Regions from separate parts of the Homo sapiens genome. Here region 1 is linked to region 2. The links come from fine-mapping of genetic effects on gene expression. A gene starts in region 2. The other region holds a variant in brackets. All regions are shown on one strand. Distances are from middle to middle.

Region 1 (16,179 bases), 33 kb before region 2:
CAGGGACCACCAGAAGAGTAAGATCAGGTCTCAGCCTTCTTCCAGCAGAACCCAGAACAGTGTAAAACTGTTCTCTTTTCCCTCCATCTCCTGGGGAGAGAAAGGATGTACTCAGTCCTCACGCCATGCAGCAAAGACCTCAAATGCCAAGGAGAGAAAATGACAGACAAGGCCAGATTAATGGGGGAGGAACTGCATAGTGGAGTTAGGGCCAAGCAGGGAGGGAAGGATTCCCCAGCAGGCGAGGGAGTGAAGGCTGCTGGGGCCCCATCCAGTCGGGGAGGATGTGGGTGAGCCCATGAGCAGAGGGGACTTCGTGGTTCGGTGTCCGGTGAGCTTCACGGCTTCTCCTCCCCTCCCCCACCTGCTTCCACTGCCCAGAGAGGAGGTCTCTGATCTCCTGCTCATACAGTGAGTCAAAGGCAGCTTTTCCCACTCCCTCACCCCCACCACCCCACCTGTCTCTCAGAGGCTCCCTTGCCTCCCTAGAGGTTGAGGCAACCCCTAAGTTCCTCTTTGAGAGCCACAGCTGCGTTCACAGTGTTGCCTCAGCCCAAATTCATTGAGTTCGTCCTCTGTGTCTCTCCCTGGGTCTGTTTGGGTCCTGGAAAATCTGATGGAGCTGGAAGCTGGGGAATAGAGCCCACTGAGAGCAAGGAAGGAGCCAGAGGGTGCTTCACTGACCTTCTGTAGCCCTCCCTCCCTTCCAATGGGCCCATTTGACAGATGAAGCCACTAAGGCTGAGACACAACAGGCAGAGACAGGAGTCAAACCCAAGTCTGTCTTCCCACTACTTTCTACCAGCTTTTCCCACTAGGGAGGGAGATGTTCCAGAAGGTTCACATCATTAGAAGGTCTTGATGCCTGTTTCCATTTTTTTAAAAATTAGTGAATAATTATTGTAATAGTTAAAAGATTTTTTCTCAATGTGAGATCTTCCTAGGATAAGTGGAAGAATCAAATCTGGCAGGTATAGCCAGGCATCGCTTGAGCCCAGGAATTCAAGGCTGCAGTGAGCCGAGATTGTGCTACTGCACTCTAGCCTGGGTGACAGAGCAAGATCCCTATCTCAAAAATAAAATAAATATTTAAAAAGCGATAGTTGGCCAGGCACGGTGGCTCATGCCTGTAATCCCAGCACTTTGGGAGGCCCAGGTGGGCAGATCATGAGGTCAGGATATCGAGACCATGCTGGCCAACATGGTGAAACCCCGTCTCTACTAAAAATACAAAAATTAGCCGGGCATAGTGGCATGTGCCTGTAATCCCAGCTACTCAGGAGGCTGAGGCAGGAGAATTGCTTGAACCAGAGAGCCGGAGGTTGCAGTGAGCCAAGATCACGCCACTGCAGCCTGGTAACAGAGGGAGACTCCATCTCAAAAAAAAAAAAAAAAAAAAAAAGCAGTAGTTAGTGGTGATAGAACAAACTAGCTCATGACTCACAACCAGGCAATTAATCATTCAGCTACAGCTTTGGCTGATATATGGCTTTACATCGTTTTTGCTCTTAATCTGATATCATTTAATTTATACCCTTACTGAGCCAATGATTAAAGACAGCATAAGAAACTGATATCAAAAATACAAGGAAGCTGGGTACGGTAGCTCACGCCTGTAATCTCAGAACTTTGGGAGGCTGAGGTGGGTGGATCACTTGAGGCCAGGAGTTTGAGACCAGCCTGGCCAACATGGTGAAACCTCATCTCTACTTAAAAAATACAAAAATTAGCCAGGTGTGGTGGCACACGCCTGTAATCCCAGCTACTTGGGAGTCTGAGGCTGGAGAACTGCTTGAACCCGGGCGGCAGAGGTTGCAGTGAGCCGAGATCACGCCACTGCACTTCAGCCCGGGCAACAAAGCAAGACTCCACCTCAAAAAAAAGAAAAGAAAATACAAGGAAATGATGGTGTTAACTCCTCTGCAGATTTGCTTCAAGATTCTTCTTTTTTCTCTTGTTTTTTTTTTTTTTTTTTGAGACAAGGTCTCCCTCTGTCACCAGGCTGGAGCATAGTGGCGCGATCTCGGCTCACTGCAACCTCCACGTCCCAACCTCCACCTCCCAGGTTCAAGCGATTATCCTGCCTCAGCCTCCCATGTAGCTGGGATTACAGGTGCATGCCACACGCCCGGCTAATTTTTTTGTATTTTTAGTAGAGATAGGGTTTCACCATGTTGGCCAGGCTGGTCCCGAATTCCTGACCTCAGGTGATCCGCCCACCTTGCTCTCCTAAAGTGCTGGGATTACAGGAGTGTGCCACCATGCCCGGCCTGCTTCAAGATTCATAAATTACATTTATCTGATCAACTTTCTTATATGGCATATTAGAGAAATCCTACTACTTCACAACATTTCAAAGGTTGGTAAGAAGAGAGAAAGATGTATTCTGTCTTTTCCTGTACTGGGTATAAAAGAGATCTACACCTGCAAGGCATATACAGAGAGGCATGCAAATAGGGGCCTGAGACATATTTTTTCTTTTTTTTTTTTTTGACACAGAGTCTCACTTTGTCACCCAGGCTGGAGTGCAGTGGTGCAATCATGGCTCACTGCAGCCTTGACCTCCTAGATTCAAGTCATCCTCTCATCTGAGTCTGTCAAGTAGCTGAGACTACAGGCACATGCCACCACTCCCAGCTAAATGAAACCTATTTTATCTTATCATATAGCAAACATAAAATTACTTTTAAGAAGTATGAATTGGCCGGGTGCGGTGGCTCACGCCTGTAATCCCAGCACTTTGGGAAGTGCTGAAGCTCAAGGTGGATCACTTGAGCTCAGGAGTTCAAGACCAACGTGGGCAACGTGGCAAAACTCCATCTCTAAAAAAAAAAAAAGAAAGAAAAAAAAGAAAGATAGGAAAACAAAAAAAAAAAGTTAGAGAAAAATTTTAAACAATACACTTATTGTAAATAGTACATTTTATTTAAAATCACTTCCTTTTTCATGGGCCATAGAAAATTATGAAATGGCTCGAGTAGTTTCCACTGGGGTTTGTAAAATTAAGTTTTCTATGTCCCATACATACTGTTTAATCCTCACAACAGTCCTGAGTGGAGGTATTTTCATTATTCCCATTTTACAGACAAGGACAGTGGGGCTCAAGGAGACGACGTAATTTGCACGAGAGAACACAGCTTTAATAAGGGGCAGGAGGTGGGTACAGTGGTGTGGGCCTGGAGTCCCACTGCTAGAGAGTCTGAGGGGGGAAGACAGCTTAAGCCTAGTTCTCCAAAAAACATCAGAGTGGGAGCAGAATCAGAATCACAACTATGACTCAGGCTGCCTCTGTCTACCTATTTCCTCCTTATTCTCAGTTGGTTCCGAGGGTAAGTTCAGGACCAACTGAGAATCTGTGTTCAGAACCAACTGAGAATCTCTTTTACACAGAACAGGAACAGGAACTAGAAATCCAGGCCACCTTGCAAGTTTGGCTCCCGAGGCCTGAGATTGGCTTGATAGAGTGTCCCGTGATCCCGCTAGATCCCAAATCCCAGGCCAGAGATTGCAACATGTGTTCTTTGTTATGGTCCCAGGGACCAAAAGCCAACAGATGCACAAATGCACCTTAATTAATTCTATTAGAGAGAGGTAGAAGGAACTTACAGGAGGATCAGCTCCCCAGATGTCTGGCCTATCCCTGGCTGTTCCTCGTCTCTCCGTGGCCTGAGTCCTCATGCCAGGTTTAATTCATCCATCAGCCTCTGCCCAGCTTGTCCCTTTGTCCCCTCCAGCCCCTTTGCCACCACTCACAGATCTTATCAGCCCCATGAGTCAAGCCTCTCTGCTGATGCTGGTTTCCCCAACTACAGAACAGGAGTGATACTAGTCCCCCATCATGGATTTGTTGTGTAGAATATATAAATTAATATATAAATATATATAATATATAAAGTGCAAAGATGGCTGGGCGCGGTGGCTCATGCCTGTAATCCCAGAACTTTGGGAGGCCAAGGCAGGTGGATCACCTGAGGTCAGGAGTTTGAGACAAGCCTGGCCAACATGGTGAAACCCCATCTCTACTAAAAATACAAAAGCTAGCTGGCGTGGTGTCGGGTACCTGTAATCCCAGCTACTTGGGAAGCTGAGGCAAGAGAATCGATTGAACCCGGGAGGCGGAGGTTGCAGTGAGCCGAGATGCACTACACTCCAGCCTGGGCAACAGGGCCAGACTCATCTCAAAAAAAAAAAAAGAAAGAAAAGAAAAGAAAAGTTAAGTGCAGAGAATAGTGCCTGACACACGGTATACAGTAGGTGCAATTTCAGTATTAGTTGCTACTATTGTCATAATCACCAGAGTGTTTCAAGAGCTGAGCCTCCATGGCTCTCCACATCGCTTCACAAACTCCCCTGTTCTGGGAACCAGCCTGAATTGCAACCTCAACCCCCGACTGATGCAACCCTATAAGCAAACCAGAATCATGGCTGGGGTAGGGGCTCTACCCTTTGGGATCTGGCCAAACCAGGAAGAGGTAGAGTGGCCTGGAGGCAAACCACAGGTGATTCAGAATGTTCACCACGTGGTTAACCCTGTCTTACTCCTGCTTTAGAGAGAAGCCACCATGAAAAGTCCTCATCATCAGGGGACAGACCTCTCTGTTCCCTGGTTATAATGCCTTACTTTGTATGAAAGTTTCCTTTCCTACAGAGAGCACTTCATGGACAGAATGGGTGACTGGCCACTTCCAGGTGTGATTTTAACAATGCTCCTCCCACCCCCAGACAAATGCATACTTCCCGATGGCTGACAGATTTCACAGTAACAGGCTACCCTCAGGGTGAAAGAGATCCACACATGCTTATCAGTCATTTATGCTGTAATATCACAGAGCATCAAATAATTTTCTGTAGTAGACT[T/C]TCTTTGAAAGAGGGAGATAGGCCTTTTAGTTCTTGTTATAAAAATGAAGATTAGCTAGGTGCAGTGGCTCACACTTGTAATCCCAGCACTTGGAAGCAGCACCAGGCCGATCACCTGAGGTCAGGAGTTCGAGACCAGCCTGGCCAACATGGTGAAGCCTTGTCTCTAATAAAAATACAAAAAAATTGGCTGGGCATGGTGGCAGGCGCCTGTAATCCCAAGCTACTCGGGAGGCTGAGCCGGAAGAATCACTTGAACCCGGGAAGCAGAGGTTGTAGTGAGCCGAGATCGCACCACTGCACTCCAGCCTGGGTGACAGAGCGAGACTCCAAAAAAAAAAAAAAAAACAATGAAACGAACAAAAAAACCAGAGTTCTGAGTGACATCACCTGGATCACAAAGGAGCTCCCTAGTGGGGCAAAGCTAAGATTCCTGTCTTCAGGCAGTGTGAACTCTGGAATCTGGTAAAGCAGAAAATCGGGAGCCCAAATGCAATTTTTTAACATTTCAAAGGGCCCCCCAGAAAGATTAGAGAGAAGTCCCCGGGAGAAAGCCGCAGGAGCCAGCTGAGCAACTAGGAGGCAGGCTCCTGTGACAGTTGCAGACCTGGGCACAGGTTTGGGTTCACATCGGGCTCTGCCCTTTTGTGCAACCTCAGACAAGTCACTGCATCTTTGCGCCTCCGTCTCCTTGTCTGCAAAACAGAGATGATGATAATAGGACCACCCTTCCTGACTTACTGTGAGGATTAATTGCATTTTACACAACTAGCTATTGTTAAAGTGAAGCTCCCCACAATCCCATTTTCACCCTTGCATTTATGGCCTGGCAGGTTAGGTTCTGCAAGGCTGTTTCACAGATACTATGAGGAGCACTTTTGATATGTTAACCTAGGCATGCCCTTCTTACTGACGCACGTTAAAAAGAAATGCTTTTTTTTTTTTTTTTGACAAAGCCTGGGGTCTCACTCTGTCACCCAGGCTGGAGTGCAGTGGCACATCACGGCTAGCTGTAGCTTCAACCACCTGGGCTCAAGTGGTCCTCCCACCTCAGCCTCCCAAGTGCCTGGGACCACAGGCATGAACCACTACCCCTGGCTAATTTTTTTTTATTTGTAGAGGCGGGGTCTTCCTATGTTGCCCAGGCTTGTCTTGAACTCCTGGGCCCAACCGCTCCTCCCACCTCAGCCTCCCAAATTGCTGGGATTACAGGTGTGAATCACTGCACCCGGCCTCACTTTGAAAATTAGAAAGCAGGTTACCCTCCTTGAGGATGCTGGCATGTGTCAGAGAGAATACCTCCAACCAATCCATTAAAAAGCAGTTATTGCTGCGGCCAGGCCTGGCCCGGCTGCGCTAGGCTAGGCTCTGGCAGGATCGCAGGGGCGGGGGTGGTAGGGGCACGGGTGGCAGCCCCGCGGGTCGCAGCGCCGCCGCCGCCGCCGCCCATGAATGGTGCTGCCCCTGGCCTGCCATCACCGCCGCGTCGCTCAGCGCCCGACCTCCCTGCTTTTGCTTGCAGAGCCGCTCCCGAGGCCCCGGCGCGGCGCGAGGGCGCGGGGCGGGGGTCCACAGGCTCCGAGGCTGCCCCCGACGCCCCGCCCTCGAGGATGGCGGCGGAGCTCTACGTCCCCGCCAGCGCCGCGGCCGCGGTCCTAGCCCACAGCAACGCCGGCGCCGCCGTGGGCAGGAAGGCCGGGCAGCGCAGCCTGCACCGCGCCCCCGCGCCCGCGCCCGCGCAGCCCACACTTGGCAACAACCACCCGGAGAGCCCCAAATGGCGCGGTCCCCCACGCTGCGCGAGAGGAACGCGCTCATGTTCAACAACGAGCTCGTGGCCGACGTGCACTTTGTCGTGGGACCCCCGGGGGCGACCAGGACGGTGCCCGCCCACAAGTACGTCCTGGCTGTCTGCAGCTCCGTCTTCTATGCCATGTTCTACTGGGACCTGGCGGAAGTCAAATCTGAAATTCACATTCCAGACGTGGAGCCCGCAGCCTTTCTGATCCTATTAAAGTACGTGTACAGTGATGAGATCGATCTGGAAGCGGATACGGTGCTGGCCACTCTGTAGGCTGCTAAGAAGTACATCGTCCCAGCATTGGCAAAAGCCTGCGTCAACTTTCTGGGGACAAGTCTGAAAGCCAAGAACGCCTGCGTCCTGCTGTCCCAGAGCCGGCTGTTTGAGGAGCCCGACCTGACCCAGCGCTGCTGGGAGGTCATCGACGCACAGGCCGAGATGGCCCTGCGGTCCCAAGGCTTCTGTGAGATGGACCGGCAGACGTTGGAGATCATTGTCACTCGGGAGGCCCTCAACACCAGGAGGCGGTGGTCTTCAAGGCCGTCCTGAACTGGGCCAAGGCAGAGTGCAAGAGGCAGGGGCTGCCAGTCACCCCACGAAACAAGAGGCATGTTTTGGGGCGAGCCCTCTATCTGATCCGAATTCCAACCATGACCCTAGAGGAGTTTGCCAACGGCGCTGCCCAGTCAGACATCCAGACATCCTGACTCTGGAGGAGACCCACACCATCTTCCTGTGGTACACGGCCACCAACAAGCCCCGCCTGGACTTCCCCCTGATCAAGAGGAAGGGCCTCACCCCGCAGAGGTGCCACCTATTCCAGTCTTCTGCCTACCGCAGCAACCAATGCCAGTACTGCGGGCGCTGCGACAGCATCCAGTTTGCAGTGGACAGAAGGGTATTTATTGCGGGGCTAGGCCTGTGTGGGTCCAGCTCTGGGAAGGCTGAGTACAGCGTGAAGATTGAGCTCAAGAGGCTTGGGGTAGTTCTGGCTCAGAATCTGACCAAATTCATGTCGGACAGATCCAGTAACACCTTCCCGGTCTGGTTTGAACACCCGGTCCAGGTTGAACAAGACACCTTCTACATGGCCAGTGCTGTTCTGGACGGCAGCAACCTCAGCTACTTTGGGCAGGAGGGGATGACGCAAGTGCAGTGCAGAAAGGTGGCCTTCCAGTTCCAGTGCTCCTCGGACAGCACCAACGGGACTGGGGTCCAGGGTGGGCAGATCCCTGAGCTCATCTTCTATGCCTGAGGTGCCCGGGGAGGCTGCAGCAGGTCGGCGAGTGGATGGAGGGGAAATCAGGACACTAACTGCTTCTTGACACCATGAAAGGCCACACTTAACCTTGTCTCTCTTTGGCATGTAGTCAACTGAAGCTTGATTCTGTGAAGTAGGCACCTTTTCCACACAGCCAGAGCTGGGGGATTGGAGTCTTAGGCATCTCTGGTACACTGGGGTGCACGTCTCAGGTGGAGGAAGATTTAGGGCACAAGACAGGCCCCAGATCCCCTCCCAATGGCACCCATGCCACCTGCTTTGAGGGGTTGCATGTTCCTGCCACCCTCTTGGATACTAAGTGGTTCCAAGCTTAACTGTAGACCTTCCCTTCAAATCTAAAATCGGCAAAAAGTCACTTAAAATAAGGGACTTCTGTAATAAAGGTTGCCTACAATTAAAAAAAGAAAGAGTTACTGAGCAGTGACCATGGGTGAGGCAGGTGCACTTAAGATACGGGAGTGAACAAAACAAATAATAAGCCTTAACTCCCTTGGAGCGACCATTCTAGTGTCCTATTACTCAAATCAGTCTCCCCCAGCATTCGAGGATCAGAGATTTTAAGGACAATTTGGTTGGTAGCTGGAAACGTGGCTCGGTAAAATGGTCCAAGGTGGGAAGGATAAAAATGAGATTAGGGAGGCCAGGCACGGTGGCACATGCCTGTAATCTCAGCACTTTGGGAGGCCAAGGCGGGCGGTTCACCTGAGGTTGGGAGTTCAAGACCAGCCTGATCAACATGGAGAAACCCCATTTCTACTAAAAATACAAACTTGGCCAGGCGTGGTGGCACATGCCTGTAATCCCAGCTACTTGGGAGGCTGAGGCAAGAGAATTGCTTGAACCTGGGAGGCGGAGGTTTCAGTGAGCCGAGATTGCACCATTGCACCCTAGCCTGGGCAACAAGAGTGAAACTGTCTCAAAAAAAAAAAAAAAAAAAAAGAGATCAGGGAAGAGATGGTTGCCCAGAAGTATAAGAGAGACCCCATGCCCCTCCGTCTATAAGCCTCTAGGGGTTCACCTTGCCTGCCGCCTAGACAGAGCCGATTCATCAAGACAGGAGAATTGCAATAGAGAAAGAGTAATTTATGCAGAGCTGGCTGTGCGGGAGACCGGAATTTTATTATTACTCAAATCAGTCTCCACCAGCATTCAAGGATCAGAGTTTTTAAGGACAGTTTGTTTGGTTGCGGGGAGCCAGTGAGCCAGGAGTGCTGATTGGCCAGGGATGAAATCACAGGGGGTCGAAGCTGTCCTCTTGCGCTGAGTCAGTTCCTGGGTGGGGGCCACAAGATCACATGAGCCAGTTTATGGATTTGGGTGGTGCCAGCTGATCCATCAAGTGCAGGGTCTGCAAAGTATCTCAAGCACTGATCGCAGGAGCAGTTTAGGGAGGGTCAGAATCTTGTAGCCTCCAGCTGCATGACTCCTAAACCTTCCTTCCTTTCTTTCTTTCTTTTCTTTCTTTCTTTCCTTTCTTTCTTTCTTTCCTTTCTTTCTCTTTCCTTTCTTTCTCTTTCTTTCTCTTTCTTTCTTTCTCTTTCTTTCTTTCTCTTTCTTTCTTTCTCTCTCTCTCTTTCCTTCCTTCCCTCTTTCTTTCTTTTCTTTCTTTTTTTTCTTTTCTTTCTTTCTTTCTGACAGAGACCCCTCTGTCGCCCAGGCTGGAGTGCAGTGACGCAATCTCAGCTCACTGCACCCTCCACCTTCCAGGTTCAAGTGATTCTTCTGCCTCCCCCTCTCGAGTAGCTGGTATTACAGCATGCACCACCACACCTGGCTAACTTTTGTATTTTTAGTGGAGGCGGAGTTTCAGCATGTTGGCCAGGCTGGTCTTACCTCCTGACCGCAAGTGATCCACCCGCCTCAGCCTCCCAAAGTGCTGGGATTACAGGCGTGAACTACCACACCAGACCCTAAACCATAATTTCTAATCTTGTGCCTAATATTAGTCCTACAAAGGCAATCTAGTCCCCAGCCAAGAAGGAGGTGTACTTTGGGAAAGGGCTGTTATTGTCTTAGTTTTAAACTAAGTTTCTCCCAAAGTTAGTTCAGCCCAGGAATGAACAAGGACACCTTGGAGGTTAGAAGCAAGATGGAGTCAGTTAAGTTAGATCTCTTTCACAGTCTCAGTCATAATTTTGCAAAGGTGGTTTCACATCTAGGCTGCCCAACTTCTGTGGTCAGGGTCTGGCACCAGATATATGAGTCTGAATTCTGACTCTGCCATTTACAAACTTTGTGACCTCGGCAAATCCAGTCTAGCTGAGCCTCTGGTTCCTCATAGATAAGATCGTGAAAATGAGACAGTCTATCTCCAAGGGCAGTTTGGAGGATAAAGGAGACAGCGCATTTCTTTGTGGTAACATTTAAAATCTACTCTTTTAGCAATTTTGATACGTGTATCATAATATCACATTGTATTCCATAAATATATACAATTATTATTTGTCCATCAAAAATAGAATGAAAACATTTAAAAATAATATATAGTACGGGCCAGGTGTGGTGGCTCACGCCTGTTATCCCAGCACTTTGGTAGGTGGAGGTGGTTGGATCACCTGAGGTCAGGAGTTGGAGACCAGCCTGGCCAACATGGTGAAACCCCGTCTCTACTAAAAATACAAAAATTAGCTGGGCATGGTGGTGCACATCTGTAATCCCAGCTACTCAGGAGGCTGAGGCAGGAAAATCACTTGAACCTGGGAGGCGGAGCTTGCAGTGAGCCAAGATCGTGCCACTGCACTCCAGCCTGGGCAGCAGAGTGAGACTTTGTCTCAAAAAAAAAAAAAAAAAAAAAAAAAAAAATTGGCCAGGCGTGGTGGCTCAAGCCTGAATCCCAGCACTTTGGGAGGCTGAGGCAGGCGGATCACAAGGTCAGGGGATCGAGACCATCCTGGTTAACTCGGTGAAACCCCGTCTCTACTAAAAATGCAAAAAATTAGCCGGGCGTGGTGGTGGGCGCCTGTAGTCCCAGCTGCTTGGGAGGCTGAGGCAGGAGAATGGTGTGAACCTGGAAGGCGGAGCTTGCAGTGAGCTGAGATCATACCACTGCACTCCAGCCTGGGCAACAGAACAAGACTCCATCTCAAAAAAAAAAAAAAAAAAAAAAAAGCCGGGCGCGGTGGCTCACGCCTGTAATCCCAGCACTTTGGGAGGCTGAGGCGGGCGGATCACAAGGTCAGGAGATCAAGACCATCCTGGCTAACATGGTGAAACCCTGTGTCTACTAAAAATACAAAAAAATAATAAAAAAATAGCTAGGCATGGTGGCGGGTGCCTGTAGTCCCAGCTACTTGGGAGGCTGAGGCAGGAGAATGGCGTGAACCCAGGAGGCGGAGCTTGCAGTGAGCCAAGATCGCACCACTGCACTCCAGCCTGGGTGACAGAGTGAGACTCCATCTCAAAAACAAACAAAAAATAAAAATAAAAATAAATATATAGTATGGATTTGAACAACAACAGAAAAGGACACAGTGCTTGTAAAAGGCCTTTCACAGTGCCTGCCACAAAGGAAGCACTCAGGAGAGAGTGGCAAATTTATTTTCTTCACATAGTTAAACCACAACAACATATTGCAACAGTTTGCATGCTGAAGCAGAGATAAGAATCCAGCTGCCTTCTCATAAACCAGACAATTAAAGAGATTTGCCACAAAAAGTTATTTTCATTTAAAAATATGTTACTTCAGGGCGGGCGTGGTGGCTCATGCCTGTAATCCCAGCACTTTGGGAGGCTAAGGCGGGTGGATCACAAGGTCAGGAGTTCAAGACCAGCCTGGCCAACATAGTGAAACCCTGTCTCTACTAAAAACACAAAAATTAGCCAGGTGTGGTGGTCCCAGCTACTCAGGAGGCTGAGGTGGAAGAATTGCTTGAAACCGGGAGGCAGAGTTTGCATTGAACCGAGATCGCACCACTGCACTCCAGCTTGGGTGACAGACTGAGACTCGGTCTCAAAAAAAAAAATTCTATTAACATGCAATAGGATTATTAATTTTTTTTAAGTTCTCAGTTTTAGTCTCTAATACAGCAAGTACTAATAGGTGTAACCTACATCAACAAAAGCTATTTATTGCCAAGGTAACTTTTAAGACGGTAAAGGGTCGCTGAGACCACGAAGTTTGAGAACTTCTGCCCCAGGCTTTCGTGATCTGCCTTTCTCTCGCCAGCTCTTTTGCAATCTGACAACACCCCTGTTTTCTGCCCCATGTGATTAATTGCATAACTGCCATGTTTGAAGGACCTTTTGAGATCTCATCAAAAAACCACTCCTGGCAGGGTGCAGTGGCTCACACCTGTAATTCCAGCACTTTGGGAGGCTGAGGCGGGTGGATCACCTGAGGTCAGGAGTTCAAAACCAGCCTGGCCAAAATAGTGAAACCCCATCTCTACTAAAAATAGAAAAATGGTGGCAGGCACCTGTCATCCCAGCTATTTGGGAGGCTGAGGCAGGAAAATTGCTTGAAGCTGGAAGGAGGCAGCTGCAGTGAGCTGAGATCTCGCCACTGTATTCCAGCCTCCAGCCTAGGTGACAGAGCAAGACTCTAGAAGAAAAAAAAAAAAAAACACTCCTGGTGCAGATGGACCTACTGAGAAGGAGGCTATTGTGCCTGAGGTTACACAGCCATCAGTTCCACCTGGGACTGGAACCAGCATCCTTCCTATCTCCTTAATCCAGGGCTCTCGTCATGACGGCAAGCTAGCAGGTGCTCCCTGGCACAATCTCAGCTTCCTGTTCTTTCATCTCTAAAAGTCTTGAGTGGAGACAGGGTCTTCCCCCTCTGCTTTCCTGTCCCACCCTTCCCTCCTGCCTCTCATCTCCCTCTTTGACACTCCTCCTACCAGCCCAAGGGCACAATAGAGATGACATCGTCACTCTCATTGGTTACCAACTAGCAAAGAACTTGAGAAAGTGAGGAGAAAGCTCTAATGTGTTCACATATATAGCATCTATATAAGCTGCCATTCATGGAGGGCTTAGTGTGTGGCAGGCACTGTATTAGGCCTGAGCTAACTCAGTTAGTCTTCATGCCTCCCCACCACTGATGAGACAAGTACTACTTGTTACTCCTGTTTTATGGATGAGGGAACTGAATGAAAGAGATGAATGAAGTGAGTGTCTTTACTTGAGAACAAAAAGCTAATAGTACTTGGCAGAGCCAAGATCGGAACTCAGTGCTATCTGACTCCAAAGCCCAACAGCCTGATGGGTAAATCCTTGTCGGTGAGAAGGTCCAGACTCCACCAGTAAGGTGGGGAAAGGACTAAAGTCTAGGGCCTGGCAGGGTGTGGTGGCTCATGCCCGTAATCTGAGCATGAACTTTGGGAGACCAAGGCGGGAGGATCACTTAAGGCCAGGAGTTTGAGACAAGCCTGGGTGATATAGTGAGACCCCATCTCTACAAAAAGTAAATAATAATAACAATAACTCAAGGCCAGCTAATGGTAGCAATGAAGGCATTACTGAGAAAAAATGGTCAGAAAAATAAAAGTCAAAAAGAGAGAGAAAATAGATGGGATTTGCCCCTGGAAATAAAGACAAAAGATTGTGCGTGGTATCAGGGCCCCTCACCCTATGCAGAGTCATGCATTCCATCCTGCCTCTTTACCAATCTGACCTTGTCATGACACAAGGACTTAAGTCCTGGCCGGGCACGGTGGCTCACGCTGTAATCCCAGCACTTTGGGAGGCCGAGGAGGGCGGATCAAGAGGTCAAGAGATCAAGACCATCCTGGCCAATATGAAACCCCGTCTCCACTAAAAATACAAAAAATTAGTTGAGTGTGGTGGCGCGCACCTGTACTCCCAGCTACTCGGGAGGCTGAGGGAGGAGAATCTCTTGAACCCGGGATTTGGAGGTTGCAGTGAGCTGAGATCACGCCACTGCACTCCAGCCTGGTGATAGAGCGAGACTCTGTCTCAAAAAAAGAGAGAGAAAAAAAAGGACTCAGGTCCTGGCTTTGTCCGCCACTTGCTATGGGTTTTTGGGCAAAGGACTTGCCCCCTCTGAATCTATTTGCTCATGGAATAGTTGAGCAAAACCTGCCTCACATAATAGCCGTGAGCCTTCCCAGGCTGTGTAAATTGTCAAGTATGTTATGAATGTAAGCATTATTAGTCCATTCTCTAAAAGAGAAGTTGCTGAATTATAAAATAATTGAAAGAGGAAGAAGATATTTGGAAAGACTCAACAAAACTGTCCTGTTGGCAGATTTCTTTTCTTTTTTTTTCTGAGTTTTGCTCTGTCACCCAGGCTGGAGCACAGTGGCGTGACCTTGGATCACTGCAACCTCCACCTCCTGGGTTCAAGCGATTCTCCTGCCTCAGCCTCCAAGTAGCTGGGATTATAGGCACACGCCACCATGCCTGGTTAATTTTTTTGTATTTTTAGTAGAGATGGGGTTTTGCCATGTTGGCCAGGCTGGTCTCAAACTCCTGACCTCAGGTGATCCGCCCACCTCAGCCTCCCAAAGTGCTAGGATTAGAGGTGTGAGCCACCATGCCCGGCAGTGTTGCAGATTTCTAATTAGTCAGTTAATTTACCAAGTATTTGTTTGGAGATGGGAGGGGAGAATGCAAAGCAACTGGATGGGATCCTAGTTTTCAAATAAATGGACAAGAGAGTGGATTCCCAATGTCCCCAGCAAGTTTCTTTTTCTTTCTTTCTTTCTTTTTTTTTTTGAGACAAAATTTCACTCTGTTGCCCAGGGTGGAGTGCAGTGGCAGGATCGTGGCTCACTGCAGCCTCTGCTTCCCAGGTTCAAGTGATTCTCCTGCCTGGCTGATTTTTTTATTATTATTATTTATAATACAGATGGGGTTTCACGGTGTTGGCCAGGCTGGTCTCGAACTCCTGACCTCAAGTGCTCCACCATCTTGGCCTCCCAAAGTGCTGGGATTACAGGTGTGAGCCACTGTGCCTGGCCAACTTTCTTTCCCTCCCTTCCTTCCTTCCTTCCTAGCTTCCTTCCTTCCTTGCTTCCTTCCTTCCTTCCTTCCTTTTATTAAAAAAATTTTTTTTTTTTGAGACAGAGTTTCACTTTTGTTGCCCAGGCTGCAGTGCAATGGCATGATCTCAGCTCAGTGCAACCTCCACCTCCCAAGTTCAAGTGATTCTCCTGCCTCAGCCACCCGAGTAGTTAGGATTACAGGCGAGCCACAACGCCCAGTTACTTTTGTATTTTTTACTGTAGAGATGAAGTTTCACCATGTTGGTCAGGCTGGTCTTGAACTCCTGACCTCTGGCGATCCACCCACCTCGGCCTCCCAAAGTATTGGGATTACAGGCATGAGCCACTGTGCCCAGTCCCTTTTTTTTTTTTTAATTTGAGACAGGGTCTGCTCTGTCACTCAGGCTAGAGTGCAGTGGTGTGATCACGGCTCACTGCAGCTTCACTCTCCTGGGCTCCAGCAATCCACCACCTCAGCTTCCTGAGTGGCTGGGACTACAGGCACACAACACCATGCCCAGCTAATTTTTGTATTTTTTGTAGAGATGGAGTTTCATGTTACCCGGGCTGGTCTCTAAGCCCTGGGCTCAAGTGATCTGCCCACCTCAGCCTCCCAAAGTGCTGGGACTACAGGTATGAGCCATGGTACCCAGCCCCCAGAAAGTTTCTTAACATTCCTGAGCCCCAATTTCTTCATCTATAAAATACAGAAAATAATAAGATTCTTGAAGGGTTGTTTTGAGATTTAAATGAGATAATGTGTAGAAAGTGCTAGCACAGTGCCAAGCACTCATCGTTATCCCCCAATCTTCTTTACAAATGGCAATACTGGGACAAGAGAGAGTAGGTGGCTTCTGGATAGATCCAGCTGGTGCCAGAGCCAGGGCTCAAACCCTGAGCACCTGAGATTCCGAACTCAGGACTGTTTTCTTTCCACCACATCCAACACTCTTGATAGTTCAATCAGGCAACCAATCTCCTGCTTAATTAGTTTTAAATAATTATTTAATCTGCACATACAGAACATAGGGATTAGTTTCCCCATTCACAGAGGAAGAAACTGAAGCTCAGAGAGTTTGAGTAACTTTCCCCAAGGTCACACAGCCTATCAGTGGCCGACCTGAGATTTGAACTCAGTGATGTTTCCTTCTAAAGCCTTGGCACTTAACCTTGACTAAAGTGGAAAGAGGCCTCAGACATCATTTAGCTCTGCTCTGCCCAGGAGAGAGGCTGGAGATGATGATGCAGAAGGAAGGTCCAGGAAAGGTCTGGGGAGACTGAGTGAATCCAGA
Region 2 (16,179 bases):
AAAAGTACAAAAATTAGCCAGGTGTGGTGGGTGCCTGTAGTCCCAGCTACTTGGGAGGCTGAGGCAGGAGAATCTCTTGTGCCTGGGAGGCAGAGGTTACAGTGAGCCGAGATCACACCACTGCACTCCAGCCTGGGCAACAGAGCAAGACTTTGTCTCAAAAATAAATAAATAAATAAATAAATAAAAATTAAAATAAAATAAATTGTTTAATCTTCTGTACTTTCTCTTCCCATCACTTGATGTTAAGCCAAATTCATAAATCCCATCCCCAAATAGTTGTTAAAACTTCAGTACTTTACTTGCCGAAATTGGCAAATTAACAAAACAAAATGTAAAACAAACAAAAAAACCCTCAACCTTATCACTCTAGATTCCATTTCTTCTTGGTTTTGATTTCCTCTTGGTTTTGACCTTTTGGGATTTCCCTTGCTTCAAAAGGAAGTCTTAGGATTAGTCTTTTGGAAAATGGAAGGCCAAAAATCTCACAAGTCACTTCTGCTTGTTGCATTCCCACGTACCTCCCCTGAGGCAGCCAGGACAGATCTGGCTTCCTGCTTGGATGGAGAAAGGGCAAAATACAGGCAAACAAAACAGAAACTGATTTTCCCACATAGAATCCATCCATACAGGTAGCAGTTTTGGCTACAGTCAGTTATCAGGTGAGGTCATTCTTGTGCTTACTGAAAAAGATTATTTTCTTCTTCTCATTGTACTGCAGCAAAGCCTTCTAGACAAGCTCAGTGGAATCTGAAGGGCCCACCCCATGGAGGAATGCTGGGTGACAGAGATAGCCAATGGCTCCAAGGATGGCTTGGATTCCAACCCTATGAAGGATTACATGATCCTGAGTGGTCCCCAGAAGACAGCTGTTGCTGTGTTGTGCACTCTTCTGGGCCTGCTAAGTGCCCTGGAGAACGTGGCTGTGCTCTATCTGATCCTGTCCTCCCACCAACTCCGCCGGAAGCCCTCATACCTGTTCATTGGCAGCTTGGCTGGGGCTGACTTCCTGGCCAGTGTGGTCTTTGCATGCAGCTTTGTGAATTTCCATGTTTTCCATGGTGTGGATTCCAAGGCTGTCTTCCTGCTGAAGATTGGCAGCGTGACTATGACCTTCACAGCCTCTGTGGGTAGCCTCCTGCTGACCGCCATTGACCGATACCTCTGCCTGCGCTATCCACCTTCCTACAAAGCTCTGCTCACCCGTGGAAGGGCACTGGTGACCCTGGGCATCATGTGGGTCCTCTCAGCACTAGTCTCCTACCTGCCCCTCATGGGATGGACTTGCTGTCCCAGGCCCTGCTCTGAGCTTTTCCCACTGATCCCCAATGACTACCTGCTGAGCTGGCTCCTGTTCATCGCCTTCCTCTTTTCCGGAATCATCTACACCTATGGGCATGTTCTCTGGAAGGCCCATCAGCATGTGGCCAGCTTGTCTGGCCACCAGGACAGGCAGGTGCCAGGAATGGCCCGAATGAGGCTGGATGTGAGGTTGGCCAAGACCCTAGGGCTAGTGTTGGCTGTGCTCCTCATCTGTTGGTTCCCAGTGCTGGCCCTCATGGCCCACAGCCTGGCCACTACGCTCAGTGACCAGGTCAAGAAGGCCTTTGCTTTCTGCTCCATGCTGTGCCTCATCAACTCCATGGTCAACCCTGTCATCTATGCTCTACGGAGTGGAGAGATCCGCTCCTCTGCCCATCACTGCCTGGCTCACTGGAAGAAGTGTGTGAGGGGCCTTGGGTCAGAGGCAAAAGAAGAAGCCCCGAGATCCTCAGTCACCGAGACAGAGGCTGATGGGAAAATCACTCCGTGGCCAGATTCCAGAGATCTAGACCTCTCTGATTGCTGATGAGGCCTCTTCCCAATTTAAACAACTCAAGTCAGAAATCAGTTCACTCCCTGGAAGAGAGAGAGGGGTCTTGGCACTCTCTTCTTACTTAAACCAGTCCCAGACACCTAGACACGGACCCCTTTTTGCTGATGAGTGTTGGGACTGACTCCTGGAAGACAGCCTGGCCTTGCCCACCTGCACACAGTCTGTTGGATAGGTAGGGCCACGAGGAGTAGCCAGGTAGGCGAGACACAAAAGGCCTGGGACAGGGTCAGTACAAGTCAGGTCAGGCTTCATGCCTGCATCCTCCAGAGACCACAGGAGCCAAAGCGAGCCTCCAGGCCCAGCAATGAGGGACTTGGGAGAAATCTGAGAAGAATGGGTTGTTCTCTTGGGAAGTCAGGGTATCAGATGGGATGGACATCCAGGTCTTCTCTCTGCCTAATTGTCAAGGCCTCCTTGGCTCTGGAGCTATGAAAGGCCCCACTTTCAAGTCACCCTTGCCACTGAGGACCGAGGACTATGCTATGATGAGGATTAAGGTGTTGACTTGCCTCTTTCAGAGATAAATGACAAGCCTTCAGTTTGGGGCATCCTGTTGTTTGGGCGAGGACCCTCTCTGATATTCTGATAATCCCCACCTGTAACCTCAGGTCCCTGGAAATACAGAGGAGGCTGGGATCGCCTGAGACACAAAAATCTTTGGAGAATTTTCTTGACCCTCTGAAGTCCTTCCAGCAGCAGTCCTGGTGGTGCTGCTGGAAGCAGGCAATGTCCTAGTCTAACCTAACTCGAAGAAAAAAAGGAAGATATTCACAAAGATTGTATAAATCTCCAAACTGTTCCCCTATCTGCCCCCAATTCAGCTCCCTTGCCTCCTCCACACCCCTATTACATATAATAAGCAGAGCAAGTGGGAGGAGGGGAAATGTCCTTCCTATATGCCAGGTATGGGGCTGACATTTCAGTCTATTGACCCCAGCTAGAATATAGCTCCATGATTTTAAAGATCTCAGGGGCCAGGCATGGTAGCTCATGCCTGTAATCCCAGCACTTTGGGAGGCCAAGGCAGGTGGATCACCTGAGGTCAGGAGTTTGAGACCAGCCTGACCAATATGGTGAAACCCTGTCTCTACTAAAAATACAAAAATTAGCAGGGCATGGTGGCAGGCACCTGTAGTCCCAGCTACTCGGGAGGCTGAGACAGGAGAATTGCTTGAACCCTGGAGGCAGAGGTTGCAGTGAGCCGAGATTGCACCACTGCACTCCAGCCTGGGTGACAGAGCAAGACTGTCTCAAAAAAATAAAATAAAATAGATCCCAGGGTACTCATTTTTCATATGAGGGAGGCTGGGTTCCTCCCAGAGGAGCCTAAAACAGCCAACAAGAGAAATTGTTGGCGGCAGGAAGATTGCAGAGGAATTCTAATGCAATTATTTGGGACCTCAAATGGAATAAAATGAAAGATATTGGTTAAACATGTCTTCGTTTAATACTTTCAAGACAAAATATCCACTAGCTATTCACTTATTCATTCATCTCATAAACATGAGCCAGGCTCTGTGCAGGGTCCTGAGTACCCAGCCATAAATGAGACTGTGCCCCTGTCTCATGGGGCTTACAGTCTATATCCTGCTTGCAAGACAGCCAATAAGTCAATAAAGAAGATAATTACAGGCAGTACAACAAAGGAAATATGCAGGTTCATGTCATGTAATAGGGATTAATTGAGTTAACTCAATAAACGGTAGGATAGACCTACCATGTGCCGGCTCACTTTTATTGAGCCTTTACTATGTGCCAGGCAGGGGGCTAAGTGTTTTTAAATGCCTTATTTCACTTCATGTTTCCCAACAACCTAATAAGAAGGTCTTAGTTATCTTCATTTTACAGATGTGGCAACCTCAAAGATGCAAAGTCACTTGTCTAAGGTCACCCTGCTAAGTACCAGAGCTGAGGTCTCCAACCTAGTTCTGTTTGACTTCAAAGCCTGCCCTCTTAACCACTAACCTTTTGTCCTAGTTCAGTCAAATTCTGCTTGATTATTGCTCATTAGGGATAATATTAGCTATCTGTAGCATCAGATTGCTGCAAAGTTAACTCATCGTAGATTCTCAATATACTCCATTTTATTAAATGGCCCCGTATTAATCTCCTGTAATAAATTTCACAAATCCAGTGGCTTATCAACAGAAATTTACTGTCTCATAATTCTGGAGGCCAGAAGTCAAAATCAAGATGTGGTAGGGCCCTGCTCCCTCCAAAAGTTTAAGGGGAGAATTATTCCTTGACTCTTTCAACTTCTGGCAGTCCCTGTCATTCCTTGGCTTGTGGAAACATCACTCCTACCTCTGACTCTGTCTTCATATGGCATTTCCTCTGTGTCTCTTGGTGTCTTTTTTTTTTTTTTTTTTTTTTTTGAGACGGAATCTCATTCTGTTGTCCAGGCAGGAGTGCAGTGACATGATCTTGGCTCACTGCAACCTCCACCTCTCAGGTTCAAGTGATTCTCCTGCCTCAGCCTCCCAAATAGCTGGGACTACAGGCACCCGCCACCACACTCAGCTAATTTTTGTATTTTTAGTAGAGATGGGGTTTCACCATCTTGCCCAGGCTGGTCTTGAACTCCTGACCTCAAGTGATCCGCCCACCTTGGCCTCCTAAATTGCTGGGATTACAGACGTGAGCCACCATACCCGGCCTGGTGTCTTTTTTAAAGAATATCAGTCACTGGATTTGGGCCCACCCTAATCCTAATAGTATGACTTCATCTTAATTTAACCAATTATATCTGTAGAGACCCTGTTTCCAAATAAGGTCACATTCACAGATTCCAGGTGGACAAGAAGTTTAGGCGGACACTATTCAACTCAGTACAGACCCAGGAACAAAGTCCACCCACTGGGCTGTGTTGAGTGGCAGTCACTAGTTTATCCTCCCTCAACAAGATGAGCTCCAGGTTGACCTCTGCATCCCCAGTGCTCAGTCAGGACCCAGCAGAGCATCTGAAGGGATCTGGTCAATATGTGTGGAACTGAACTGTTTCTGAAAAGCTCTGACGTATGTTTTGGAAAATCAAATCTTGTTTTAATCCAGACACCAATCTTTTTGTAAGGCAAACAAGTAGCATAAATGTTTAAAAGTGAATTTGCATGTTTATATACTGTCATTCCTTAAAGTTGAAGCATGCCTTTCTTTATTCATCGGTGGAATCCTTTCTCATTTTGGCAAAGAAAATGCCCAAGTGCCTGGCACAAACAAGCACTGAGTAAATACTTCTTGAATGAATAAAACTAGATTCTAAAAATCATTTGATCAAACGCAACTCCACACTTTCTACTTCTCTTCTTTTAGAACCACACTGTATTTCTGCTTTTTTTTTTTTTTTTTTTTTTTTTGACATAGAATCTCACTCTGTCACCCAGGTTGGAGTGCAGTGGCATGCAATCTTGGCTCACTGCAACCTCTGCCTCCTGGGTTCAAGCAGTTCTCCTGCCTTAGCCTCCCATGTAGCTGGGATTACAGGTACCCGCCACCATGCCCAGCTAATTTTTGTATTGTTAGTAGAGATGGAATTTCACCATATTGGCCAGGCTGGTCTTGAACTCCTGACTTCAAGTGATCCACCCACCTTAGCCTCCCAAAGTGCTAGGATTACAGGTGTGAGCCACCACTCCCAGCCCCTATGTCTGCTTTAAGTGGAGAAGCAGAGCTTATGAGGGAGGAGAACAAGGGTGCAAAAGGGACCTAGATATCACTGAGAACTGCCCTTGTTGTTTGGTTGAGGAAATGGGCCCAGACAGTGGACAAGACTTGCTCAGGGAGACAAACGAGATGGTGTCCAGTGCAACAAACCTAGGTTTCCTAACTTCCAGTTCTGTCCACTCTACATCAGTGCCTCTCACCTGTCCCTGCAGGTTCACATTTTGGTTATGTGGATAAGGAGAAATAAATTGAAGATCACAATGTCCCATTTTATCTTCCCCAAGACAAGCTCTGTAACATTAAAGACCACTATGCAAACCGATTACTAGAAAATGTGTGTGGATGGGTTCGGTTTTTTTCCTAAGGTGTTCATGCTTACTGTTTTGGGCAATATTTCAACATAATCTGGCAGAAAAAGAAACAGAAGATAAAGAAAATAGCTGTAGGCCGGGTGCAGTGGCTCATGCCTGTAATCCCAGCACTTTGGAAGGCTGAGGCTGGCGGATCACTTGAGGTCAGGAGTTCGAGACCAGCCTGGCCAACACGGCGAAACCCCATCTGTATTAAAAATACAAAAATTAGCCAGGCGTGGTGGCGTACCTGTAAACCCAGCTACTCGGGAGGCTGAGGCAGGAGAATGGCTTGAACCCAGGAGGTGGAGGTTGCAGTGAGCTGAGATTGCAGCACTGCATTCCAGCCTGGGCGACAGAGCAAGACTGCATCTCAAAAGAAAAGAAAAGAAAAAAGAAAAGAAAAGAAAAGAAAACAGCTGTGATTCAGCAATAGTCATTTTCTCTCCTTGTCACTGCCAGAGTGAGGAAGTGCTGGGTTCTGTCAACATAGGCTCTGACTTCTCATGAGGTGCAAGAAAGAAGCAGCATGAACAAAGGCATAGATTTTGCACCTGGAGACACGTATTCTAGTCCCACCTCTGACTCAAACTAGCTGCATGATCTTGGGCAGCCCCCCAGCCCTCTCTGGGCTTCAGTTCCCTCCTCGGTACAATGGGAAGGGTAGGGAAGAGGATGGTGCCTAGGATCTTCAAAGTCCCAACTCTGATGTGCTGCCATTCTCTCACTGGCATGTGGGAACTGAGTGTGCTACGTGGAGTCATGAGACTTCTTCTTCCTTTTCTTTTTCTTTTTTTTTTTTTTTTTTTTTGAGACCGAGTCTCACTCTGTCGCCCAGGCTGGAGTGCAGTGGTGCGATCTCGGCTCACTGTAACCTCCACCTCCCGAGTTCAAGCAATTCTCCTGCCTCAGCCTCCTGAGTAGCTGGGATTACAGGCGCACCCCATGCCCGGCTAATTTTTGTATTTTTAGTAGAGATGGGGTTTCACCATGTTGGCCAGGCTGGTCTCAAACTCCCGACCTCAGGTGATCTGCCCACCTCGGCCTCCCAAAGTGCTGGGATTACAGGCGTGAGCCACCTTGTCTGTTCAGAGACTTCTGACTTCCGTATTTCCCTCGCTAATGGCCTCACCTCCCGTTTGAGTATGTGCAGCATGTGCAAATTGCAGAGGAACTGGGGAACTTCCCTGCCAGGCAATCCTGGGTCCTCTTGGCTCTCCACTTCCTCCTTCCTTCCTTCCTTCCTCCTTCCTTCCTTCCTTCCTTCCTTTCTTTCTTCCTTGGTCTGGCTCTGTCGCCCAGGGGCTGGAGTGCAGTGGCGGTATCTCGGTACAAACTAAGCTATTTGAAATGCCTCGGAATTCCCAAAGAAAGCTCAGTAAATACCAGACAGATGAAACGGTCCTGCCCGCTCTCCCTCTTTCAGTACCCAGTTTTCTCTTTCCTCTCCTTTCATAACGTTTCTTCCCATCATCCCTCTACCTCCTTATTTCTGTCAGGGCTGTTAGATACCCTTCCGGTCTGTTATCTCCTCCTCCAGCCTTGTGCTACAGGACAACTCAAAAGCCCCCTATGGCTCCCAAGTGATCACTAAATAAAACTCGTGATCTCACTTCAGCCTACCCCTGCAGGATTGCTGCGGCAAAATGGACTACTCCCAGAGGCGTGATCACGGTTCGGTTCACTGCAGCCCAGACTTCCCGGGCTCAAGCGATCCCGAACCTCCCACCTCAGCCTCTCGAGTAGCTGGGACTCCAGACGTGCACCACTACGCCAGGCTCATTTTGTTTATTTTTTATAGAGACAGGCTAGTCTCCAACTTGTGGGCTCAGAGCGATCCTCCCGCCTCGACTTCCGAAAGTGTTAGGATTACAGGCGTGAGCCACTGCGTCCGGCTCAATGGACTCCTTCTTAAATGTGAGTTCTCCGCACACACTGGGCCTTGCTCACCTCCACGATTTAACCTCGCAGTTAAGTCCCTTTTCAAGGTTTTTATTCGTCCTTCAGCGAAGCGCTGTCAACGCCTCCCTGCGTCTTTCCCTTCTTGAGCACCAGAGGGCGCTCCTCCGACCCGAGGAGGAAGCGACTCGGGCCAACCTGTCCAGGTTGTCCCACCCCTTTTTCCTTCCGGGCCAATCGTTAGTCAGAGTGGGCGGAGCCGCCCGCGGGCACCTGCGCGTTAAGAGTGGGCCGCGTCGCTGAGGGGTAGCGATGCGGGCTCCGGGGATGAGGTCGCGGCCGGCGGGTCCCGCGCTGTTGCTGCTGCTGCTCTTCCTCGGAGCGGCCGAGTCGGTGCGTCGGGCCCAGCCTCCGCGCCGCTACACCCCAGACTGGCCGAGCCTGGATTCTCGGCCGCTGCCGGCCTGGTTCGACGAAGCCAAGTTCGGGGTGTTCATCCACTGGGGCGTGTTCTCGGTGCCCGCCTGGGGCAGCGAGTGGTTCTGGTGGCACTGGCAGGGCGAGGGGCGGCCGCAGTACCAGCGCTTCATGCGCGACAACTACCCGCCCGGCTTCAGCTACGCCGACTTCGGACCGCAGTTCACTGCGCGCTTCTTCCACCCGGAGGAGTGGGCCGACCTCTTCCAGGCCGCGGGCGCCAAGTGAGTGTGGTCCCGGGGAGCGGCGCCCCTTCCCGGCTCGGGCGGCAAACAGGAGGTGGGGCTGGGCGGCCAGCTGGGGCGCGCAGCTGCCGGTCGCCCCCATGACCCCGGGGCCCGCGTGTGGCCTCCTGCGGCCACAGGAGTGAGCCTGGCACACCTGATGAGGAGGAGGAGGTGCGTTTGACTGGGGACTGATAAATGAAGGTTCAGGGAGATGGCAGGCTGGGAAGCCCTGGGTATCTGCACCTGTGCACCGAGAGGGCTGAGTTAGGCCATACCTGATGTCCCTTTCAGATTGACAGCACTATCAGGACTCCAGGGTTTCAAATCAGTGGTGTGGAGCCTGGTTCTAATTCAACTGTGAACCTGGACATGTCACTTCAGCCTCCCTGCAGCCTCTTCTATGGTTGTAGAAAGGGGTTATATAAGGATACAACCCTTTGAGCCCTAATGTCTCTAAGAGGGAAAGAGAGGGGAGTTCTGGTGTGCAGTGTATTTGGGCAACAGTACAGATAGTCATTCGTTTGCTCCTCTCAATCCCTTTTACGTAGGAAGTGTCCAGGAAGGGTCTGACTCTCTCTGAGAACTGTTGGAACTTGGGGGTGGCTGGTTCAGAGAACAGAGTAGAGAGCGCTGGGGTGGGGATAAGGGGAGACCACGACCCATGAAGTTGTCAAGGCAGGGGCTTGTCCTGAAGGAGTGAGCCTTGAGAGCCCTGTATTGACAGATGTTAAGTCAGGGAGTGGTTACTATCAGCTTCTAGAAAGATTCATTCGGCTGCTGGGAGAGAAGTGGGTTGGAGAAGAGTAAAAATGGAGGCGGGGAGGTTTCCCCAGCCCCTGGCTTAGAGCAGTCTTCCATCCTTACCTTGGTTCCTCAGCCATCTTCCGGGTTTTCGTTTCTCTTGAACTTTGAATTCACTTGTACTAAAGAGAAGTTACAACTGGCATTTAGTGTTTGCCATTAAATGTATGGGAGTATAAGACTTGATTAAGCAGAGGAAGTGTTTGTCTCCTAGGGGCCTTAGGGATCCATAACTTACAAGTGAGAAAAATTAAAATCTGGGAGATAACCTCTTTCCATGCCTTTTATTTCATGGATGAGATGACTGGCCCAAAGAGAGGAAGGAATATAATGTCCTAGACTCCAGGTCTCATGACGTCAAGGTTGTTTCCACTGCACCAGGGTCTGCAAACTGGCCAGAGGGATTGGTCCTCTGCCAGTTTTTTAAGGCCCATGAGGTGAGAATGGTTTTTACATTTTTAAAGGGTTGTAAAATGTTTTAAAGAAGAATACACTACAGAGAGGAATGTGCTCCCACAGAGCCTAAAATACTATCTGGCCCTTCAAATCCTGGAGTTCCCTACTCTGGCCAATGATTGAACCATAAAGTGCATTACCTATTTTTGTGCCATAAAAGCAAATTAAATATTGAGTGATTTGGTTGTTATTTCAACACTTGCCTTTTCTCCCAGTTATTGGGTCTTTTGTCACCTCTATAATAAATGAGAGGCAATTTATGTAGGCTTGGTAAACCAAACAGCTTAGTTTTCTAGAAAGTTTTCTATTTTGTTGTTATTGTTGTTTTGAAACAGTTTTGCTCTGTAGCCCAGGCTGGAGTACAGTTGCATGATCTCGGCTCACTGCAACCTCTGTCTCCCAGGCTCAAGTGATTCTTATGCCCCAGCCTCTCAAATACCTGGGACTACAGGCACACACCACCATGCCCGGCTAATTTTTGTATTTTTAGTTGAGATGGGTTTTCGCCTCATTGGCCAGGTTGGTCTTGAACCCCTGACCTCAGGTAATCCGCCCACCTTGGCCTCCCAAAGTGCTGGGATTACAGGTGTGAGCCACCATGCCTGGCCAGCAAATGGCTTAGTTTTCTATTATCTGCCATTTCCAGTAGAGCTCTTTCTCCTTCAGGGCAAAGAATGAAAGAAAGTTAATCGTTCCTACCAGAAGTGTTGAAGAATCAGAGAGCTAAGGTGCACTTCTTTTCCCTTACCCACTCCTTCCTTCCCTCTGGGCCTCCTCCTTTGCTGGGGACTGAGGGTTGGGACTTCCTCAAATCTGCTTCCATTCTTGGAGCAATGCCCAAGGGGAATTGTGACTGCAGCAGCTTCCTGGATATCACTAATATAGTCACTGGTACAAGTACATTTGTTGTGGTCAAGTTCTTTCAGCTATTTAAAAAGCCTCAGGCATGCTGGGCAAGTTCATGCAAGTTCACTGCCCACTTCCTTTGCTCATGTGGTTTTGCTGTCCACAGGTATGTAGTTTTGACGACAAAGCATCACGAAGGCTTCACAAACTGGCCGAGTCCTGTGTCTTGGAACTGGAACTCCAAAGACGTGGGGCCTCATCGGGATTTGGTTGGTGAATTGGGAACAGCTCTCCGGAAGAGGTGAGTGTCCAGGGATGGTTACTCTGTTATCTCTTTGGATCTGGCTGTCAAGAGTTCTGTACCTCCTCTACTTGCGTGTGTTTTCTAGGTTTGCATATAGCAAGTAGCCTGAAGGGCTTTTGGCCTTCTACTCCTGTGTGTTTTCTAGGTTTGCATATAGCAAGTAGCCGGAAGGGCTTCTGGCCTTTGAATTGGCAGTGTTTGATGCTTCACAGTTTTCACGTGACCAAAGGGGACACCGTTACAGAAGTTCATGGCCATGTCTGGTTAGATGAAGGATACCCAACATAGACTACGATGCTACTTGATGTCCTGTTTGAGGAGTAGGCTGAGTGTCTGTATAAATCATAAAGTTTGATTGGAACACAGCCATGCCTATTCATTTATGCACTGTCTGTGACTGCTTTCAAGCTACAATTTGAGAGCTGAGATAGAGACCAAATGGCCTGCAAAACCTAAAACACTGTCTGGATCTTTAAGAGTTCACTGGTCGGGTGCGTTGACTCACACTTGTAATCCCAGGACTTTGGGAGGCAGAGGCAAGCAGATCATGAGGTCAGGAGTTCAAGACCAACCTGACCAATATGGTGAAACCCTGTCTCTACTAAAAATACCAAAATTAGCCGGGCGTGGTGGCGTTTGCCTGTAGTCCCAGCAACTCGGGAGGCTGAGGTAGGAGAATCACTTGAACCCAGGAGGCGGAGGTTGCAGTGAGCCAAGATCGCACCACTGCACTCCAGCGTGGGTGGCAGAGCGAGACTCCGTCTCAAAAAAAAAAAAAAAAGAAAAAAGACAAAAAGAGTTTGCTGACTCCTGTCACCTGCTCAGTTTGTTTCTCAGCACTGTGCTTTGCTTAAAGTCCTGCTGTAAAACTCTGAGATATTGATTAGATATGGACTTCAGGAGTCATGATTTTTACCATCTTTATTTAGTCCCTGGGTCATATGATGAAATACTTCAGTTGTTTTTTATCTGTGTAATTGCTTCTTGCATTATAAGGTTTTTGTAACACTCACCATTCTTAACCCAAAGCAAGCTTTATTAAATATGAAAATAGGTCATCAACCACATTTCATTTTGTGTACGTTAAGAACTATTAGTTTGGCCAGGCGTGGTGACTTACGCCTGTAATCCCAGCACTTTGGGAGGCCGAGGCGGGTGGATCATGAGGTCAGGAGATCAAGACCATCCTGGCTAACACAGTGAAACCCCGTCTCTAGTAAAAATAAAAAATAAATTAGCTGGGTGTGGTGGTGGGCACCTGTAGTCTCAGCTACTTGGGAGGCTGAGGTAGGAGAATGGCGTGAACCCGGGAGGTAGAGCTTGCAGTGAGCCGAGATTGCGCCACTGCACTCCAGCCTGGGCGACAGAGCGAGACTCCATCTCAAAAAAAAAAAAAAAAAGGAAAAAAAGAGAAAGAACTATTAGTAAATCTTAGATAAATAAAACGATAAACCTATATTCATTTCAACTGTGTGGAAAATGTTACTAATGATTATTTCTGAGTAAGAGTACTTTGCATATTTGATTTTCTATTTTCCAGTTTCTTTAAATATGAAATTTTATGATTGACAGGGAAGACATTTTTTAAAAATAAGGCTATATGGTTTTTTGTTTTGTTTTGTTTTGTTTTTGTTTTGAGACAGGGTCTCACTCTGTCGCCTTTGCTAGACTCCAGTGGCACAATCTTAGCTCACTGCAATCTCTACCTCCTGGGCTCAAGCCATCCTCCCACTTTAGCCTCCCAAGTAGCTGGGACTACAGGCTCGCACCACCACACTCAGCTAATTTTTACAGTTTTTGTGGAGACAAGGTCTCACTATGTTGCCCAGGCTGGTCTCAAACTCATGGACTCAAGGGATCCTCCCACCTCAGCCTCCCAAAGTGCTGGGATTACAGGCATGAGCCACTGCGCCCAGCAGGACTATACTCTGTTGGGATAATTGACTTAAAAGATAAAAGATGGTTTAAATAATATTTTGGTGTTAAGATATTTATGTATAAAAGGTAGTTATGTGTTTAATCAAAAACACAGTAAACCTCATTTTGCTTAAGTGAATAGTGAATAATTTAAGGAAATGGTTTTGGATCCCATTCCTCTCTATATGCTCTTATGAGTGAGTGCCACTGAAATGAAAAAATGCTAGAACTGATTTTCCTTAAAATAAATTATTTGTTCTATGCTTAATGACAGTTGCTGTTCTGTTTTTCTGTTTAAGGAACATCCGCTATGGACTATACCACTCACTCTTAGAGTGGTTCCATCCACTCTATCTACTTGATAAGAAAAATGGCTTCAAAACACAGCATTTTGTCAGTGCAAAAACAATGCCAGAGCTGTACGACCTTGTTAACAGGTAAGACACTGAAATATTTTGGCCCTATGACTTTTATCAATGAAATCAGAGCTTCCTATAGGGTACCATTAAAGTGGAGGAGGGATAGGTATGAAAAAAACCTAAAAGACATCAAAATAATAAAAAGTGGTGGTTGTATTAAGACAAAATATGTTCTTTCCTCCTGCCTTTCAGAACTTCTGTCATGTGGCCATATTGCCTTCTACATTGAAACAATCACACAAAACCCAGGATGGCAGAAAGTCAAAATTTTAGTTCCCTTCTTACATGCCGTTTTCCCTATGTCAGGACCCTGGAGAGGGGGTGGTTTGGCATCGGGCAGATTTGTGTTTGAATTCTGGCTCCTGTTACTTACATGCCTTAAACAGAACACTCTCCTGAGCTTGATTCTCACTCTGTAAAGTGGGGATAATAATGCCTTCTTTGTAGGGCTCAGAATAGTATGTGAAATGTATCTGTCACGGTGCCTGGTACAAAGTAAGGCTGTTGTTATTACCATTATTCTTTAAATGATCACTTTCACTTAGGGATTTGTCACTAGTTCTTCACAATGTTTTATCCCCATTTGCCTTTCTCGAGCCTGGGGACTCATAGAGGACGGTAGACCCTTAAAGCTTCAGAGGCAGCTGCCTGGACCCTCACTTTAGAGCAAAGGAAAATCACCTTTAGCCAGGCGCAGTGGCTTACGCCTGTAATCCCAGCATTTTGGGAGGCCGAGGCAGGCAGATCACTTGAAGTCAGGAGTTCGAGACCAGCCTGGCCAACACGGTGAAATCTCGTCTCTACTAAAAAATACAAAAATTGGCCAGGCATGCTGGTGCATACCTGTAGTCCCAGCTACTCGGGAGGCTGAGGCAGGAGAATCTCTTGAACCAGGGAGGCAGTTGCAGTGAGCCGAGATCCTGCTACTGTACTTCAGCCTGGGCTACAGAGGAAAACTTTGTCTCAAGAAAAGAAAAATTACCTTGTATTCAGATTCTATCCAGATGACTTCTCTTAAGAAAATAGTAACAATTGTAAGAGACCATCAGAGACATGGACAGATTTAGAATTACTGAATCTTAGATCCCCACTCTTTTATCGTACTTGGCTATGTTGCCTTGAACAAACTACTTATCTTTCGAGATCTTGGTTTCTCTATCTGTGAAATGGGATAATAGTATATCCTAGAATCATGAGAACTAATGAGGTAATGAGTTTAAATTGCCTAGTACAATTTCTTATACACAGTAAATCACAGACCATCTGTTATATCTTGCCACTTAGTGATCTTCCTAGAGTTTACCTGCCTAATTATGGAGTACAGTGGACAAATGGGCAGATTTGTATTTGAGTTCCACCTCCTGTTACTTACAAGCCTTGTCACCTGAAACAAATTGCCCTACTGAGCATCAAAGTCTTGCTGCTCAAATGAGAATAATAATGCTTACCATATAGGTATATACATATGTATTTATGTATATACACACAACATACATGCCTTATAGGGCTCAGAGTAATAATATGCTAGAGTACAAATGGGGCTCCAGTGGATTCCATAAGTCCTTTACAGTACAGACTTTGGTAATTATCCACAAAAATGCATTTTATGAATAGTTCCAACTCTTAAAACATCTTCAAAGCAAATCTTAGTCTTATAGTCCTGAAGCACCATTTTGTTTCCTTTGCTTCCTTGAAACACCATTCTTTTTTTTTTTATTATACTTTAAGTTTTAGGATACATGTGTACAATGTGCAGGTTAATTACATATGTATACATGTGCCATGCTGGTGTGCTGCACCCATTCTTTTTTTTTTTTTTTTTTTTTTTTGAGACGGAGTCTCGCTCCGTCGCCCAGGCTGGAGTACAGTGGCGCAATCTCGGCTCACTGCAAGCTCCGCCTCCCGGGTTCACGCCATTCTCCTGCCTCAGCCTCCCAAGTAGCTGGGACTACAGGCGCCCGCCACCATGCCCGGCTAATTTTTTGTATTTTTAGTAGAGATGGGGTTTCACGGTGTTAGCTAGGATGGTCTCGATCTCCCGACCTCGTGATCCGCCCGCCTCGGCCTCCCAAAGTGCTGGGATTACAGGTGTGAGCCACTGTGCCCGGCCAGCTGCACCCATTCTTAATTGGAATTAGTTGCTGAAAGGAAACCAAATTGTTTGTATGCTGATTACACCTCCATTTCCTAAAAGGCATAAAGAAAAAAGATTAGGGCAGGCACAGTGGCTCATGCCTGAAATCCCAGCACTTTGCGAAGCCGAGGCAGGTGGATCACTTGCTGCCAAGAGTTCAAGACCAGCCTGGCCAAGATGGCAAAACACTGTCTGTACTGAAAATATGAAAATTAGTCAGGCATGGTGGTGCACACCTGTAATCCCAGCTACTTGGGTGGCTGAAGTGCAAGAATCACTTGAATCCAGCAGGTGAAGGTTGCAGTGAGCCGAGATCACAGCACTGCACTCCAGCCTGGGAGACAAAGCAAAACAGTCTCAAAAAAAAAAAGGAAGAAAGGAAAAGATCAGGAGGAAATATACCAAAATGCTGTGTGTTTTTTTTTTTTTTTTTTGAGACGGAGTTTCACTCCGTCGCCCAGGCTGGAGTGCAGTGGCGCAATCTCGGCTCACTGCAAGCTCCGCCTCCCAGGTTCACGCCATTCTCCTGCCTCAGCCTCCCGAGTAGCTGGGAATACAGGCGCCCACCACCACACCTGGCTAATTTTTTTGTATTTTTAGTAGAGACGGGGTTTCACCGTGTTACCCAGGATGGTCTCGATCTCCTGACCTCGTGATCCGCCCATCTCGGCCTCCCAAAGTGCTAGGATTACAGGTGTGAGCCACTGTGCCCAGCCTGCTGTGTTTGTTTTAAATGGTGGTTTTATTAGCAAACTGGTTTTATTAGCAAATGTTTTCAGTTTTCCACATCCTCTGCACTGTGATAATTTTTAT

Evidence for each region. PIP is the estimated chance that this variant, and not a neighbour inherited with it, causes the effect.
Region 1: its variant is fine-mapped to the expression of FUCA1 in whole blood (TOPMed, PIP 0.95).

The regions. Positions count from the first base shown.
Region 1 is chr1:23,893,205-23,909,383 of GRCh38, reverse strand. All of the region lies in intron 1 of CNR2 (cannabinoid receptor 2), which reads left to right. It also overlaps the pseudogene BTBD6P1. Among named protein-coding and RNA genes, the nearest start is that of CNR2, 12 kb to the left of the region's middle. RefSeq lists enhancers at 4,257-4,336, 12,047-12,176, 12,227-12,286. The variant T/C (reference allele first, on the strand shown) is at 4,858.
Region 2 is chr1:23,860,205-23,876,383 of GRCh38, reverse strand. FUCA1 (alpha-L-fucosidase 1) reads left to right here and starts at 8,094. Exons shown (of 8, transcript NM_000147.5): 1 at 8,094-8,486; 2 at 10,759-10,893; 3 at 13,113-13,250. The coding sequence starts at 8,098. CNR2 (cannabinoid receptor 2) reads left to right here. Exons shown (of 2, transcript NM_001841.3): 2 at 722-5,869. The coding sequence starts at 767. The coding sequence ends at 1,849. RefSeq lists a silencer at 8,463-8,682 and an enhancer at 9,933-11,132.